Linked DNA regions of Homo sapiens. The protein of the gene in region 1 purifies or fractionates together with the protein of each later gene. This does not show direct contact. Each region holds a gene or a part of one and is shown in the gene's direction. Other genes may lie near its edges.

Region 1 (3,827 bases):
TAGGACTGTACAGGGCAGATCCCAATAGACAAGGCCTCCCTGAGTGCTTGTCCTCAGGGCTAGTCAGAAACACCAAGGCAGTTGAGGCTGGTGTGGTGGCTCGCACCTGTAGTCCCTAGCCACTCGGGAGGCTGAGGTGGGAGGATCGCTTGAGCTCAAAAGGTGGGGCTGCAGTGAGCTATGATGGCACCACTGCACTCCAGCCTGGGCAACAGAGCAAGATCCTGTCTCTGAAAAAAAAAACCAAAAAACCCACTATGTCAGTCAACGAGATGGGTGCTGAAGTAAAGAAGTGAAGAGGAAGTAGGAGAGAAACAATTTTTTCTGCAGACTTTCCAGAACAAGCAAAACCCAACTGTGATGCTCTGCCGGTTTTCCTCTACCTTCATAATGTAATTTGCCACATGCATGACCCAAAGCAATGTTTCTTACACTGCAGACCATGACCCATCAGTGACTCCTGGAACTAATGTAGCGATCACAACCACCATGTTCTTATAAAAAATAAAAAATAGAACAGAACCTATGTTAAGGCATCACACTTACCACTTATGAAGGTGTCATTTCCTAAAACTTTTGTATATTCCAGATATACGATAGTTTGGTCCATGTCAAAACTAAGGAAACTTGGGAAGTCACTGACCTAAATAATTAAACAGGGTATTTGTTTTCTCATCGCTGTCCTTGTAACCAGACTGTTAAGAATACAAACATATTTACTATCATGTGTGTTTCAAATCCAATTTAAGAGTAGAACACCTTTTTGGATAGATTATTAGAATCCTCACTTGTAAAACAAGAGAAACTGAGGCTCAAATAAAGACAGCATGTCCTTCTTGCTCAAGGATTCTTAGCAACAGCAGAATTAATGGTACAAGCCTTTTCTCCATGACACTTGAGACTACGGTGGCAATTCTTACGGTTGGCACAGCCTGGCGAGTGGTCTTTACTTTCCTTACTGGTAGTAAGGAAAGCTGGCTTTAACAAGCCCCATACCTTTCAGCAAACTCCTAGCCTAGAAAGATTCGAAGGGCAATATTTTGAAATGGGAACGTGAACTGAAATAGCCATATTTGACTTAACCCTTTTAAATCAAAGATGATGCTCACAGCGAAAGCAAAACACCTTCCCAATATTTGTTTCTGAGACGGAGAGGCTCTCTGTTTAATTCTTTTCTTGCCTGAATATTTCTTCAGATTAGGGCTTCCTTGACCTCTAAGAATATTTTTTAATCAAAAATAGTGACCTCTAAGGTAATAGTAATAAGCAGAAATTATCCAAAGACGTATAAAGAAAGAGTTGAGAATCTCCCCCCACCTCCTCCTCCTGCCTGAGGTAACCAATGTGAACTGCCCTGGTTTGTATCTTTCCACACTCTTTTTCATATCCAAGCATATTCAAACATATATCCCTACGGTGAAATGAGAATATAGTGTGCCAGTAAATTATTCTGAAACTCGCTTTTCTCAACAAATACTTCATGGACATCCGTCCAAGTCTGCTTCTCAACAGCTACGTAATATTCCAAGTATGAATACTGTAATTTATTAAATCAGTTCTGTATTTTTTCTGTTGTTTCCAAATTTTTGTTAACTTAAAAAACCTACTTTAAGCATCAAAGTACACATATCATACATACTAGTGATTGTATTGCTATAAGATAGATTCCCCAACAGTTACCTAAGTCAAAATATTTGTTTCAGTGTTAACAGACATTGTCAGATTACTTTCTAAATAGATTGTAGTAATTCACACTCCCACCAGAAATGGAGAAGTGCCATTTCTCTGCATCTTTACTAGCACTGAATATTAACCTCTCTTTTTTAGTTTTAATTCCAATTTTAACTAGAAAACACATATTTATTGGCCAGGCACAGTGGCTCATGCCTGTAATCCCAGCACTTTGGGAGGCCAAGGCAAGTGGATCACTTAAGGTCAGGAGTTCGAGACCACCCTGGCCAATATGGCAAAACCCCGTCTCTACTAAAACTATAAAAATTAGCCAGGCGTGGTGGCACATGCCTGTAATCCCAGCTACTCGGGAAGCTGAGGCAGGAGAATCACTGGAATCCCGGAGGCGGAGGCAGAGGTTGCAGTGAGCTGAGATCGCACCACTGCACTCCACCCTGGGTGACAGAGCGAGACTCTGTCTCAAAAAAAAAAGAAAACACATACTTAACAACACTTAGAATCCCCTTACACGAATAAGGGAGAGTTTGACATATAAAAATTTGTCATATGAAAATTCTTGGCACTTTTTTCTATGTTTTCTACATGATGTATAACCTTTTATAATTACGTAACATTAATTAAAATACGCCATGCCAACACTTGTGAAAAGAAGGGAAAAATAAAGTATATCTATATTGTGATTTATGTTAAATATTATATTTAACAAGATACATTTCCCTTTCCATAGTGGATCAGGTTAATTAGCATAAAATGCTGTTACTAAGAGCTATGGGATTTGAGGCTTAGTTGCTGAGATTCAGTATTTCAGTGCTGCAGTGTTTATTTTCTTGCTTTGGTCACACATAAAACTCATATGATTCTGAAATTCAGTAAATAAAGGTCAGAGTCATATTACTTGAGACCTTGGATCAAATTAATACTTCTACCAAAATATTCTTACAACCCATTTTTAAGTAACTATTTCAAAAGCTGTATTAGCATAAACCGTTTCTGCCAGCTACTTGGGAAACTAAGGGAAAAGGTACCTATTGAGTATGTTTGTCTTCACAGCATTTATGAGAAAGACATTAAGTTACGTGGTTTTCTCTCACTAATAGTGGCAATGTGGGAAAATTCCAGAAAAAAAATGCAAAAAGCCAGGCTTTCCAAATCATGCAAGATATTTTTTCTAGAGCAGGAATTGGCCTAGATCACATGTGGTTTGCTGAATCCCAGTCCTGGCATCATAAAGCTGAGAAAATACAGTGTAGGTTTGAAGCCGACACAACAGCAGAGTACCAAAAAACACATGGTAGGAGTGGGATCCACATGGGAAAAGCAACACTGAGATGGAAGTTAATAAAGTGTATATATTTATTTATATATTTATTATATTTATACATACGGTGTCTATATATACACACTATTATCTGGTCTTTATTAAGATTTGCTTTATTATAGAAGAAAATGAAAAGGAAACTAGCTATTTGAGGTTGTAAATCCTTTCTAATTACAAAGGTAATATCAATAAATGTCAGGTTGGCTCTTAAAGGAGATCTGGGATGGAATGAACAAACAATTCGTATATCCTTTTTTTTTTAAAACTCACCATTATCACAAGGCTTAAAATATTTGTACTCTGTAACTCAGCTGCTAAATGTATATGTATCGAGGAGCTACAAGTGAATTTCATTCTTTTGTATATTTTCCAGAGTTTATATAATAAAACATTTTGCCTTTTAAAATGAGGGCAAAAAGGATACTATTCAGTATTGGCCTTGCACCAAAGAAACTGAGTTTCTTCTGAATCTTGACATGACATACACAGAAACAGTCAGCAAGTTTTGTCATAAAAGAACAATGACAGCACATGTATTTGACAGCTGTTTTTTTTTTTTTTTTTTTGAGATGGAGTCTCACTCTGTTGCCCAGGCTGCAGTGCAGTGGCGCGATCTCAGCTCACTGCAACCTCCGCCTCCAGGTTCAAGCAATTCTCCCACCTTAGCCTCCAGAGTAGCTGGGACTACGGGTGCTCGCCAACACAATCGGCTAATTTTTGTGTTTTTACTAGAGACAGGGTTTTGTCATGTTGGTCAGTCTGGTCTCGAACTCCTTTGATAGGTGTTTTTTATCTTAGGTGTTCAGTAAATCATTTG
Region 2 (3,827 bases), on another chromosome or scaffold:
TGTTCGTAAAAAAAAAATTACACAGAGAAGAAAAAAGGGAGGTATTTGTAATGCATATAACTGACAAAGGATATGTGTCTAGCTTATATAAAGTAAAGCTGTGATTTAAGAAGAAAAGATAGCTTATTAAAAATGGATATGAGGTCTGGGCATGGTGGCTCACGCCTGTAATCCCAGCACTTTCAGAGACCAAGGCAGGCAGATTTCTTGAGGTCAGGAGTTTGAGACCAGCCTGGCCAACATGGCGAAACCCCGTCTCTACTAAAAATATAAAAATTAGCCAGGCGTGGTGGCGCACGCCTGTAATCCCAGCTACTTGGGAGGCTGAGGCAGGAGAATTGCTTGAACCTAGTGGGCGGAGGTTTCAGTGAGCTGAGATTGCACACTGCACTCCAGCCTGGGTGACAGAGCGAGACTCTGCCTCAAAAAAAAAAAAAAAAAAAAAAAGGATATGAGATTTGAATGGATACCATCCAAAAAAACTTGATTGTCCTGTCCACTTATGGCTTGGTGAGATAAGTTGCTCAGTGTAATTTCTGATCAGGGAATGCAAATGGAAACCAAAGTAAAAAACCATTTATACCCATCAGATTGGCGAAATTAAGAAGCCTGCTGATAACTAGTGTTACCCAGGATGTCGCACAGCAGGTGCTGTCATGCACTTACGATTGGAAAACATTTTGGCATTTCTTAGTAAAATCAAACATTTTCCAGTTTTGTTACCTGGCAGTTTTATTCATTGGTTAAAAAATATCTTAATGAAATAATTTCATGTAGATAGAAATGTACGTGACATTTTGTTCATACCAGCAAAAAAATGGAAAACAACTCAAAAGTCCAGTAGTGCAAAGGATAAGTAATACTATACAGCTATTAAAATCAGTGAACACACCTGCATGTACCACTGAATGAATCATGAAGACAATTTTGAGTTAAAGAAGCAAGTCACAAGGGAATACATGCTGTATGTTTTCATTTATATGATGATTAAAATTTGGCAAAAAAGAAACAATGTTCGGTGGTAAATCTAAGGAAAGGTTGGGGTGATGAATAATTATGAGAGTCCTTCTCACTGGGCTGAAGGGGTGGGAGGGACAGTAGAAGGGCTTTGGAAGTATTAATCATGTTTCGTCCTCCCAATCCGATGTACCTTGCTACATCAGCATTAACCACCTGCCACCTGGATTGCTGCAGCAGCAGCCTCTTAAGGCTTCCACAAACCCATCTTCCAGCCACCCACTCGTGGTCTGCTGAAGTGCCAGTCTGATAGTATTGCCTGAACAAAACTCCTCAGTGGCTCCTCTGCATTGGAGGATGAAGTCTAGATTTATGAGCTTATTTCCTCATGCCCTCTCCCTGCCTTCACCTCTAGCTTGTACCCTGCACGACCTGTTTGCTACACACAGTCCCTCCACAGAGCCATGCTTCTTGCCTCTGCACTGCTTCTCATGTGCTTTCCTCTTCTCTGAAAAGCTCCCCCTTTCCCCTATTCCTTTCTCCTGATGAACTCTTAGCCATCTCGAAAAACCCAGGCCACTTGTCATCCCTAGAGGCCTTTTCTACCATTATTCCTCTTCTCCACAACCTTGGTGCTTTGTGCTGTGTGGGAACGTTTCTTAATGCATGTATTTGCTCTTGTTCTGTCATCCCTCTAGATGAAAAGCTTGTTGAGATCAGGAACTGTATCTTACTCTCCTTTGTGTTTCTAGGGCTCATAGATGTTGAATGAATGCCTAATTATTTAAATGATAGAATATTGGATTGGAAGTTAGGAAATCAGGTTCCATGTTGGTTCTGCTTTTGACTATGCCATACCAGGCTCATTTGAAAATTTTCTCCCACCTCCAAAATAGGAACACTTGAGATGCTTTATTATTTGCATATTTTCTTTCCACTCTTGATACTTCTGTCTAAATCAGTGAGGCAGGGCATGATTCCTAGTTTTCAGGAAACTGCACTGGTCTTTTAGTAATGCAGTTTACTAAAGAAGAGTAAATCTCACTCGTTACTGAATGTCAGTGACTTCAAAAAGTTTGTGGGAAAAATGGAATTAAAATATAAAAATAAAAACTGTAAACTTTATTTCTCAAAATAAGCTCTATCAAGTTTAAGACACTTTTGCCCATGATGATACCAACCTTTTAGTTCATCCCTAAAGAACTGAGGGTCCTGTGAATTGAACCACGTCAAATGCGGTCTTTTACATTATTAACAGAAATGAGTGCCCTTTAAAGATTTTTTTAAGATTAGGAAACAAGAATAAGTCAGAAGGAGCCAAATCAGGACCATAAGGTCCTAATGGCTTCCCATCAAAATGCTCACTAAATAGCCCTCGGATGAAAGGAATGAGGAGGAACATTGTCATGCTGGAGAAGGACTCTGGTGAAGCTTTCTTGGGCGATTTTCTGCTAAAGCTTTGGCTGACTTTCTGAAAACACATAAAAAGCAAACGTTACTGTTCTTTGGTTCTCCAGAAAATCAACAAGCAAAATGCCTTGGAGCATCCAAAAAAACATTATGACCTGTGCCCTTGACCAGTTCACTTTGGCTTTGACTGGACCACTTCCATCTCTTGGTAGCCATTGCTTTGATTGTGTTTTCAGGTTCATACTGGTAAAACCGTGTTTTATCTGCAGTGGCAGTTCTTCAAAGTAATGCTCTAGGATCTTGATCCCACCTGTTAAAAATGTCCATTGAAAGCTCTTCTCTTGTCTGCAGCTGATCTGTGTGCAATGGTTTTGTCACCGATCGAATGGAAAGTTTGCTCAACTTTAATTTTTCAGTCAGGATTGTGTAAGCTGACCCAACTGAGATGTCTGTGGTATTGGCTGTTGGTTCTGCTGTTTATTTGCGATCTTCTTCAGTTAAGACACGAACAAGATACATATTTTCCTGGCAAATTGATGTGAATAGTCTGCCCTGAGGGCTTCAACATTGTTTCATTCCTTCTTGAAACAAGTTATCCATTTGTAAACTGCTGATTTCTTTGGGACATTATCCCCATAAATTTTTTGTAAAGCATCAGCGGTTTTACCATTCTTCCATCCAAGCTTCACCGTAAATTTGCTATTTTTTCTGCCTTCAATTTTAGCAAAATTCATATTGCTGTTACAGGGGTTCTTTTAAAACTGATGTCTTGTCCTTCTTAGTGCCTCATACTGGATCCTGTTCATACAAGTTACTACAAGTTTATTTTGGTGCAAAAAAATGGTGAAATCCTTGCATAATTTTTTTCATAATACACGTTTTCCATGAGCTTTTTGAAGATTTCTTATATATATGTATCTTTTCCAACGCATGAAGCATTATTGAGGACAAAAATAGTCTTAAATCATAAAAAAGATTTATATCCAATATACTAGAAGGTCTGCCTTTCAATTAACTCTATGTAACAATTTCCTAGTCCCCCAGCCTGTGGGTCTCTTGCTGGTAGCTTCACAGGTAGTCCCAGAATAGAGGGGAAAAACGGCAGTGTCACACGGAAGTGGGGGAGGCAGGGAGCTGAGTGCCTGGAGCTGCATGAGGCAGGTGTTTCCTCTCGTGAATACCCACAAAACTGGGATAAAATGTTTCCCTTCTGTGGCCTGCTCTCTAGTCAGAAAGCTTACTGGGATGAGAACAGACAGTGCTCTTACCCCTAGATATCTCTTCTTTCATTAATTCACTTCATTTCTCCAAGTACTTTCTGATGGTGGTCATGGTTACAATTCCAAAGCAGAAAATAATAGAGGGGAGATTTGTTTTTTTTAAATCAAAATGAGGAAAGGCACATCTGAAGAAGAGACAAATATGTACATTTTTCTGAAGGTAACTATTACACATATTCA

What was found.
Region 2: the proteins of IGFBP7 (region 1) and GGH purify together in Homo sapiens (co-immunoprecipitation; one large-scale study listed by IntAct). This does not show direct contact.

The regions. Positions count from the first base shown.
Region 1 is NC_000004.12:57,033,799-57,037,625, reverse strand, and holds part of IGFBP7 (insulin-like growth factor-binding protein 7 isoform 1 precursor), read left to right. Parts: intron 1-3,827. UniProt on the Homo sapiens protein: Binds IGF1 and IGF2 with a relatively low affinity. Stimulates prostacyclin (PGI2) production. Stimulates cell adhesion. Acts as a ligand for CD93 to play a role in angiogenesis.
Region 2 is NC_000008.11:63,018,290-63,022,116, reverse strand, and holds part of GGH (gamma-glutamyl hydrolase isoform 1 precursor), read left to right. Parts: intron 1-3,827. UniProt on the Homo sapiens protein: Hydrolyzes the polyglutamate sidechains of pteroylpolyglutamates. Progressively removes gamma-glutamyl residues from pteroylpoly-gamma-glutamate to yield pteroyl-alpha-glutamate (folic acid) and free glutamate.